Linked DNA regions of Homo sapiens: region 2 is linked to region 1. The links come from fine-mapping of genetic effects on gene expression. Tissue or cell type: whole blood. Region 1 holds a variant in brackets; the other region holds the start of a gene. All regions are shown on one strand. Distances are from middle to middle. Region 1 overlaps SLCO4C1 (solute carrier organic anion transporter family member 4C1). Region 2 holds the start of SLCO4C1 (solute carrier organic anion transporter family member 4C1).

Evidence for each region.
Region 2: it holds the start of SLCO4C1, and the variant in region 1 is fine-mapped to the expression of SLCO4C1 in whole blood (INTERVAL, PIP above 0.99).

The regions. Positions count from the first base shown.
Region 1 is chr5:102,233,511-102,238,900 of GRCh38, forward strand. It overlaps SLCO4C1 (solute carrier organic anion transporter family member 4C1), which reads right to left. Exons shown (of 13, transcript NM_180991.5): 13 at 476-3,508. The coding sequence ends at 3,348. Among named protein-coding and RNA genes, the nearest start is that of SLCO4C1, 60 kb to the right of the region's middle. The variant T/C (reference allele first, on the strand shown) is at 2,242.
Region 2 is chr5:102,294,079-102,299,468 of GRCh38, forward strand. It overlaps SLCO4C1 (solute carrier organic anion transporter family member 4C1), which reads right to left and starts at 2,206. Exons shown (of 13, transcript NM_180991.5): 1 at 1,830-2,206. The coding sequence starts at 2,184. RefSeq lists an enhancer at 1,972-2,171.

The DNA.
Region 1 (5,390 bases):
CTCATATGTGCTGTAAAAGTTAGTGTTTATTGGACTTTACTGAAAAAAAAGCTGAAGGAGCCTGGGGGAAAAGAACATTACATTTCAAATTAACATCTAATATTATTTCCTTAAAATATTTTACTATTACAATAAACTGAGATAAATTAAACACATCCCACACTTTTTTATCAGATAGTTTACAAATAAACCATCTGTAAAATGTATCCTACTTATATAAATCTTATATATTAATCTGTCATATGTAGAAACTTGTGTAAGAGAATTTCCCTAATATATATTTCATAATACATGTGGTTTGTATTGAATTAAAAACATCTGTTGAGATACAAGAAATCACTGGATTAAATTATTAATACATTCACCAAGTTCAAAAGCATACTAATTTCCCTTTCCCATCCATAAAATATGCTTATGTTCACAGAGATAAGGCAAGTTTCAAACCTGTGTCATTTAATAAGCTCAAACACGACAATTTTGTATAAACATTCTGATTTAATAAATGGTATGAATATATATTTTGCATACTTTACAATAAAGAAAATTTTGAAAGAAAATGGATCTAAAACTTTGTTTCCCTCCAATTTACATAGTAAAGTCAACTGCATACAGTTCTTTCCATGTGTAAGTTTTACATTTGTATTTTCTACAATTAAGTAAATCTAAATGTTAAATTTTAACACATATATCCAATTATGTACACAATTACAATGTCAATTTATAAGTCAAGCTTACTTAACAATCATAAATTACAAAAAACGCACTATGAATAATTTTGTTCTAGAAGTATCACATCAACTCATATGATCTAGGTGAACCCAAAAGTAAAAAATAATGATTATAAATTATGGTAGTGTCTGTAAAACCCTGTTATAAAGGAGGTATTCTTTTAAAATATGTACCTTATATATAAAAGCTCCTGACTCCTTTTAAGGACCAAAATTATTTTCAGTCTAACCATTTTCATTAAAGCGCTTATTTAAAAAGTATCACCTTATAAAACTGAGTATATAAAATACAATGCAGCCCTTGATAGCTAAGAATCTTTATAAACGCCAATGATTTAGTGACCTGTTTATCAAACTATTTCTATGGATGGGTTGATTTTTTTTCTTCCTCTAAATTAAGTGGCCCTAGACTAATATATTTGTTCAGTTATTCTGTTTTCTTCCTTACTGCCATTTCACATCTCCATCAGTGAGTTCCTCAGGATTTGCCTTTATGTTACAACTATGAAAGTCTTCAATCCAATTCCCTGCTTCCACACAAAGGACAAAGAAAGCCTAAACTTTCCTTTTCCTTTTTTCTGGGCTCCAATAGGAAGCAGCATTTACAACGTGTCTGGCTTGGTGGGAGGAAGATTGTCAATTGAGGTATCATGTGTGTTCACCTGCCTCTCTTGCCCTATTTCTTTGGTTGCTATAAATTTCCTGCTTCTCAAATATCTGGATTTTTGGCTACCTATTTGGCTTCCGTCTTTGGTGTTTATATCTGTCTGGTTTTAGCAGGTCTCTCTGATTCCTGACCCACAGCTCCTCTCCTTCTCTAATATTCAAGTATGCTGCTTCCCTAACTCCTCATTCCTTCTCCTTGAATTTCACTTTACAATTGCGCTAGGTTCTAACATCGTTGGCCATAGATTACCACAAAACATAATTTCTTAAATTCTGCAAATTTCTAATGTTTCTAATCTTGGTTTCCTACAAGATCTAACACTAAGCTTGTGTTATCCTGATTACAGTGTATATAAAACAATGCTTGTGGAAAATTAACCTAGGAGAAAGCTTATAGGGGAAACCTGATGATGAATTTTATTAAATTAATAACCCTTATAACAATTTCAAATGTAATACTATCTGGATTTGAACTTCAATACTTTTCCTAAGTAAAATTCTTAACCATGGTAGAAGTTATGTTTGTTGATGTTCACTCATCTATACCCTCCATATTCTCAGCAAAGTTGGCATAAATCTGACCTGAATAAACAGGGTTATAACATTATCAGGCTTGTAAAATACTTTATCAAATCAATGCATCAGTTAAAGCAGGGGTCCCCAGCCCTGGGCTGTGTGTGGCCTGTTAGGAATCGGGCCACACAGTTGGTGAGCTGAGAGGCAGGTGAGTGAGCATTACTGCCTGAGCTCCACCTCTTGTTAGATCAGTAGTGGCATTAGATTCTCATAGGAGTGCACACTCCATTGGGAACTGCACATGCAAGGGATCTAGGTTGCACTCTCCTTA[T/C]GAGAATCTAACTAATGCCTGATGGTCTGAGGTGGAGCAGTTTCATCTCAAAACCATACCTTCTTCCCCCATGGAAAAATTGTCTTCCACAAAAATGGTCCCTGATGCAAAAAAGGTTGGGGACTGCTGAGTTAAAGGGTAGGGTTTAATATTCTAATTAAACAATAATAATAGATGACTACACTATGCAAGGCACTGTCTTAGGTGCTATGAGTAATGTGTTAAGTGGTTGGCTTTTCAAATAGGAAAAATTAAAGGTATATAAGTATTGATCAATAGTTTCATGTTTAGTTGGCATTTTTCTTTACTGACTGGTACTTTCCTCTGAAATATATGCAATTGAATAATATTATCACAGAATCATAAATGTGTTAAAAATTGTAATATCAACAAATTACCTCCTGGAATTCTTGAGTTAAAGTGAAAATATGTGTATACAATGCTGATGTTTCTGTATTCACTATATACTAAGACACAAGGATGATAACTAACATATTCTAATAGTTCAATAATTTGCTTGGAGAAAGGCCAGGCTAGTATACATAAATTTAAAAACAAATTACATGGTAAACCTGGTTTTAAATTCATAGGCTTTCAATAATAATTCCCGGAAATCATCACACAACTTTGATTAGTTTAAATTTTTATACCATAAATGTTCTAAGCTCAAAATATTGACAATGAAAATTAAAATTAAACAAGTTGTAATGGGGATAGAAACAACATTTTTTTTAAATGTAAATTTTTCTAATTGTGGGCCTTTTTTCTTGTTATTGCTTGAGGATTTCATACCTAGACAATGGGAATAGGAAATAAGTGTGTATGTGTGCGTGTGTGTGTGTGTGTGTGTGTTCGTGTGTGTGTGTGTGTGTGTGCTCGTGTGTGTGTGTGCTGTGTTTTGAGGCTTTACGTGGGCTTTGAAGGCACAGGTCTGTTTCTTGCATAAAACAAAAACTACATAAGTAAAAAAATACATTTGATTATAAAAACATCAATTTTGTAAATATGATTGTCCATATTGGATAGATAATCCTGCCATGGCAATGTGTGTTCTTAAAAATCGAGGTAAATTTTCCAGGTGTAAAACAGTCTTCTCTTTTCCCATTTCACCCTTCTTTTACTATTTTGTTGAGATCCTGTTCTGCTAAAACATTAGTCACAACTGCATTCTCTTTATGAAATGACACATCTGTGGCTGATGGAGGTGGTTTATACAAAAAGATTGCAAATCCATTGAAGAACATGGTGATAACTTTACAAGTAACACCTAAGTGAAAAAAAAAATTAATCATGTGCTTTTGTTTTTAATTATGATAAAAATTATCACTGAGAAAAATCTTCATGAATAGAACATTTTTAAAGAGAATAATTACATAACCATTATAGTTCTATGTTTAAAATTTTTGAAACATTAAGGGGAAAGAAAAAACATTTGTATACAATTCAAGTCACTAGTACTTATTTTCTTTCTAAGCTGTAATAGAGCACAATAATTAACTTATTCTTGGTTATGCTTGTGCATTCTTGTAAAATAAGTGTTGTATAGAACTAAATAGGAATTGGGCCACCATCTAGATTTGTTAACACAAGCCCATAATCCCAGTACTTTGGGAAGCTGAGAGAGGTGGATGTCTTGAGTCCAAGAGTTCGAGACCAGGCTGGGCACCATAGGAAACCCTGTCTCTACCAAAAAAAAAAAGTGCAAAATATATTCAGGTATGATGGATGGTACAGCCTGCAGTCCCAGCTACTTGGGATGCTGACGTGAGAGGATCGCTTCACCCCTAGAGGTGGAGGTTGCAGTGAGCTGAGATCACACCACTGCACTCCAGCCTGGGTGACAGACAGAAACCCCGTCTCAAAAATAAATAAATAAATTCGTTAACACAATATGATATCTATAAAAAATTGCAAGCAACCAAAAGTCAATAATGAGGGAAAGTAGTTTGTAACATTCTTGAACCTGAATAAATTGAAGAACATTCCCTTCCAGGACAGAAAATAATTCTAAAAATTAAAAAGGTTTTGGAGTTCTTAAAGCCTCTGTGGGAGGATATCACACTCAATACTTAACCAAATCTACTCTTCTTATCAGCTAAAAATAAACATTAAGATTCACTTCACAAACTTTGATTTATTTCCAAGTAAATCTGATTTTAAGTTCAGTTATATGAAGAGAAACTAGTTCCAACCACAGTATAAGCATTTAATAATTGCCAGCCTAATAAATTCAACGTGGTCTCACAGTATAGTTCTTGCAGTAGCTGGTTTCTTTTTGTTGATTATTAATATTTTGTTTAAAAACATGTATTTGAAAAACAGGAATGCTCATTCATCTAGGCATTACTAGACTATAGAATGATTAGTTACATAGGTACAACTTACAACTTTTTTTATTTGTTTCATTCTGAAAATTTTAAGGTTTTATATATTTTGTGGGGGGATTCCCATTCATCATTGACTAGGAAAATGAATGATTTGTTCTATCTATATCTTTGACCAAAAAGTACAAACAAAATGAATTAAATAAATTTTAAACATAAAAACATTGTATGTAGCCATGATTGTGGTAAAAATATATAATTTTAAAAATTGAATAAAAAATGGTTTTTAACAACAGGTAAAGTAATGGGATGATTAATTTTGCCTATACTTGTCAATACTTACTCCCCAAGTGCTATAAGAATTTATAGATTATTTCTTCAGCAAATATTCTATTACTCTATCTCTATCAACTCAGAAAGCATACTCTGGATTTACATGCATGTAAGAGTAATAATAGCCTATCTTGATCAACCTGTGTCAAAATAATCACAATGAAAATCACACATTATATTAGATACATATGTATACATACATTCAGGATTTCTCTAAGCTATTTTAGTTTCCTAGGTTATTATTCAAATTTTAAATTTTTAAATTTCAACTTTTATTTTACTAGTGTAAACTAGATACATTGTTTTACTTAATCTTAATCTTGCCTTAAATTTCATTCATTGCTTAACCAAGACATTACAAACTGCAAAAGGCAAAAAGAATTAAACATCACAGCTAACCTTCTAAACTATAAAAATGTTCCTTACAACGTGCCTTGGAGACAAAGGATACTTCCCTGCCTGAGCCATATGTGTTTGCAACACCTAGATACC
Region 2 (5,390 bases), 61 kb after region 1:
TTGTATTTTTGGTAGAGACGGGGTTTCACCGTGTTGGCCAGGCTGGTCTCGAACTCCTGACCTCAGTTGATCTGCCTGCCTCAGCCTCCCAAAGTGCTGCAATTACAGGCGTGAGCCACGGCGCCCGGCCATAATTTTTTGTATTTTTAGTAGAGACGGGTTTCACCATGTTGGCCAGGCTGGTATCCAAGTTCTGACCTCAACTGATCCGCCCGCCTCGGCCTCCCAAAGTGCTGGGATTACAGGCGTGAGCCACCATGCCCAGCCTATTGGGTCACTATTATCTCAGATTAAGCTTCTTAAATTGGGGACCTCTGGGTAGATGCTGCTCCAGACTAAACCTGACAAATTTTCTAGGAGTGACAATTACATTTGATAACAATTTTAGGCAATATTTTATATTAAATATAAAATGTTATATTTTGGAATAATATAGAAATTTCAGAGGAATTTTAAGATAATACACAAGATAAGACATTTTTTACTTGTGTCCAACTTTTTTATCTTCGCATTCCTTTGACACTGAGATGCTTCACAATTACCAATTTTGTAAAACTATGATCAAGACATTAATGGAGGGGAACTTTGGTAGGGACAAGAAAAGTGGACAGGGAAATAATTCTTCAACACAAATCTACCTTCAGTAGAAGAGCTGCAGCGGACTTGCAATCAATAAATGGTTACTTAGCATCTAATGCGCAAAGCAAGGGGCCCTGGGTTCCTTGAAGAGGAAGAATAAGAACAAAAAGTATACTTAGGCTTTGACTTAGTTTTCTATTAACTTAAAAAATGAGCTGTTTCCAACCCTCTAAAATCTATATTTCTAAGGTTGTATTTCTTCCAATTAATCCTTGACTGATTATACAGAAAATATTCTCGGACTATGACTCAAGTGACCAAAAAATATCTACATTCCAATTCAGCTAAGCTTCGGCATGTCCTTCTTGACTCCTCTCCACCTCTTCTCCACCCTTCCTCAAAGTCAACTCAGGTTAACTTCCTATTTTCCTTCAACCTCTGTATTGAACACACCAGAAGCAGCTTTAACCTTCCCTGTGCCTTCTTTCAAGGGAGCTGTTCTCCCTCCAGGATATCACTCCTCCAAACTGAGCTTAGATTGCAAGCCCCTGAGGGTATAAATCTGAACTGAATCTGTAACTCCCAAGAGAACCTAAAAGAGATCCTAGAACAAAACAGATGCTGGATAACTAATGTAACACAATGAAGATTAAGGCTCAACAACGTCGGGAGCCTTTGCTAATTTACTCACTGGGCTCCTCTGGTGACCACATACTCTCAAACTAAATACACTCACAAAACATGAATGTCTGTATCTAATTTATACGATAGATTTTTCATAGCTTTCTTCCTTGTAAGGCATCCCACTCCCACCTGCAAACGTATTACTCCTTCCCCTGAGGCAATGAAACAAATGTAAAAGTAAAATACCTTTAAAGAGTGCCTAGGTAAATTTTTGTCTTTATAATGTAAAATAAACTCCCCAGGGTATACCTTTCCCAAAGGAAGGTTCTTGTAATCTTCCCTGTAAGTCTTGAATCCGCTAAACTGAGGTAAAACACAAAAGAGAAAAAGGCTTGTATTGCAAGTTTGAACTGTAGTGATAAAGGAGAAGCTGAACTTTGGAAGGCTGGCTGGGGGCCGGTAGGTTGACCTTGGTGAGAGCGCAAGCAAGTTCCAAACCCGGGGCCACCTTGCAGGGCGCGTCCACCGTCCCACGGACCCCGCGCACCTGCCCTCTCCCCCGGCTGGCTCGCCGTGCCCACCTCGCTCTCCACTGGCCCGAGCCTCAAGCGGGCGCTGGACTTTACCTTGCGTGACGGCCAAGAGGCAGTAGTGAAGCAGAAAGCCTCCAGGTGTGTTGCAGCGCTGGAGACATTGAGGATGGAAGTTCCTCCAGCCGTAAGACCCCTCCTCAAACTCGGACAGCGACAGTGACCGGAGCTTCTCTTCGGAGACATTGGGAGGGGCTGAAGGCAGAGATGGCTCTGGTGACTTCTGGGGCTCCTGGGGCTTCTGAAGCTCCTGTGGCTGAGAATTCTCTCTTTGGGGGTCAGAGGACAAGGCAGAGACTTCGATTTGGGAGGGCGACGCAGACAAGCGGCGCAGGATGTCTGGGCTGGAGGGGACAAAAGCCAAGTTCTCAATACCTTTGGCGCTCTTCATGTCTGGATGGGTTCTCCCGACTCCGGTGCTTCAGAGCAGCAGAGCCAGGTCCCTCTCTGGCTCCTCCCACAGGCAGGTGACAGCGCCCCCGTGCGGGAAGCTTCCCGCCTCCTGGCCCTCCAGCCTCCAGCGCACTCTCCGCCACCGCCTGAACCTTCCTACTCCAGCTCGCAGCTGTCTGGAGCGCAGAGCGCTGAGCGGGGGCGTTAGCGCCCCAGCCTGTGGCTTTGGCGCTCAGCTGTGCCTCACCCGTCGCCTCAAGGACCAACCGGAAGGCGCGGCGTGGGCGTGCCACCCGGCGGCGGCCGAGTAGAGGGGGCGAGAGTTCTCACCCCACAGCCTTCGACCGGAGTCCGCCTCCGCCCAAGCCCCTGCGGTTCTGACCTGAGCCTTCAGCCCGCAGCGCGCCTCCCTTGAGCCCAAGCACTGGGAACACACAGAGACTGTGGGAGTCTCTGGCCATAAGCTCCCCTTGGGTGCTGACATGAAACCTGTAAACAGTTGCATCAGGAGATTGTTCAGGAAACTATCTTGCGTTTTCTTCCTTTGCTGCTTACCAAAGCAGTCTAGGCTTGGACTCCAAGAATCAAGACGTCAGAGGTATACTTTGGTTCATGAGCATCTTGATAAGACTCTTGCCTGTCATCCTGTTACTGGTAGAAGGTGTCCAGGTTCTTGGCATCTTGAAGAAAGAATTGAAGAAAACGCACAAACAAAGCAAGGAAGGAATGAAGGGGTTTATTGAAAATGAAAGTACACTCCACAGTGTGGGAACGGGCGAGCATAGGGGCTCAAAGGCCCGGTTACAGAATTTTGGGGAGTTTAAATACCCCCTAGAGGATTCCATTGGTTACTTTGGGTATGCCCTATGTAAAGGGAGAAGATGAAGTAAAGTTACAAAGTCATTTATGGCCTACGCCCTATGGAGAGGATATTTCCTGTTACAGCTGAAGTGTGAATAGGCCTTATGTTTCCTGCCTCCAGACCCTATTTTCCTGCCTCAGTCCTCCTTAGAAAAAGAAATCCACCCCACCCCACCCCCATCACCACCAGGATGAACATCACAGCATAACCACTGCTTTGCTTTTCCTTCTCCGAAACTGAAGGACCAGAAATTGTCTCTCTGCTGTATATTGCATATGTAAGATATACAGTGATGACAATCATGTAAATAATTTCTACCGGGCCAGGCGCGGTGGCTCACGCCTGTAATCCTAGCACTTTGGGAGGCTGAGGCGGGTGGATTACCTGAGGTCAGGAGTTCAAGATTAGCCTGGCCAACATGGTGAAACACTGTCTTTACTAAAAATACAAAAATTAGCCAGGTGTGGTGGTGCAGGCCTGTAATCCCAGCTACTTGGGAGGCTGAGGCAGGAGAATCATTTGAACTCGGAAGGTGGAGGGTACAGTGAACCGAGATTGTGCCACTTCAATCCAGTCTGGGTGAAAGAGTGAAACTCTGTCTCTTAATAATAATAATAATAATAATAATACATGTCTAACTGTGGAATAAATAAGAAAAACACTTCGAAGAGCTTAACACCATTGTGTCATGGTAGGTACAATTTAGTCATTCATTCTTTCACTTAACACAGACACAAAAAATTCTTGTGTCCTAGGTGCCAAACATTGTTCTAAGTTCTGGGGGTACACAAGTGAACAAAGACTGGCAAATACCCCTACCCTTATGGTGCTTATGTTTTAATAGGAAACAGACAGTAATAATACATAGTACATGGCACATAATATGATAAATACTATTTTGTGAAACTTTTGTTTCAATTATATATGCTGTGTTTACTGGGTTGAGAGACAGATATAAAATATGTATCTTACTTTGGACAGAGGTACATTCTGTTACCTGTTTCCTCACAATCGAGAAAACTCTAGACTGGCCAGCCGGGCGCAGAGGTGCAGGCCTGTAATCCCAGTACTTTGGGAGGCCAAGGTGGGTGCCTTGAGTCCAGGAGTTTGAGACCAGCCTGGGCAACACGACAAAACCCTGTCTCTACCAAAAATGCAAAACTTAGCCTGGCATGGTGGTGCACGCCTGTAGTTCCAGATACTTGGGAGGCTGAGGTGGGAGGGTCGCTTACAACCTGGGAGGGTGAGGTTGCAATGAGTACTCCAGCTGTGCCATAGAGCCAGACCTTGTCTCAAAAAAATAAGAATTAAAAATAAAAATAAATTCTAGATTGGCCTAAAACATGGGGAAAGAGTAGAAGTAGGAGCTAACATTTAAAATGTCTGCTATATGCCCCATTATTAAAATCTTTACAAAAGCAGCTGCACTGTTATATATAGTTTACATATTGAGGAAACCATATCCCATAAAGAATTAGTAACTGTCCCAAAGTCACATAGCTAATAAGTGAACTGCCACTTAAGGATCTGAACTCGGCTCTCTTAGCCAGAAGTCTTCCCTAAACTTTGCATTTTCTGTCTTTTAATAACTACAGTGTATCTCCATCAGGTTAAATTATTGCATAGCAATTTTAAGAGATCAAAATTCAAAATTCTGTGATATTCGTGAGGCTTAGAAGATTAATGCTGCTCTGAAAACCTAGATTTTGGAGGTATTCAAATTAAGCATGGTATGTAATCTTCCTGGGCTTGCTTTCTACAAAAATGGACTCAAAGTAGGTAACTATTTTGATCACCATTTTATCTATGGAATACGAAGTAATTTACACAACCAGAAAATTTTGTTTTGATGGGATGTGATTACATACAATCATGGCTTAAGACTATTTTGCAGCTGTGACTTAATAAATCCATGCTATACTATCAAAATCAGAGTAGCATAATCATCGTGCACTTAAATTCATACTAAGGAGAAATCTCCACTCTCACAGTGTTAGAGAGAGAATTTTGGTTAAAGATTAGCAAAATTACTATTGCTTCATCTTAAATACATCTTGCTCTTACTGAAAGTTTCAATTTCCTGTTCCCTTACATTCTTTATGCTGCAGTGATGGAAGGGGCTTCGGTTTGCAACAAAAACCAAAAAACAAAAATAGGAAAGAAAAATTGTTAGTTTTCATCCCTGATAATTCTATGGAAAAACGTCCATTTTAAAATTAATTGTTTGGTCAATCTAGGTTAAATCTGCCTCTAATGAACACAGTCAAAATATACCATCTTAAATTTCAGAAGGTAATTGATACTTTACTCTTCTTATAGTACATTTTATTTGCTATGTTTTT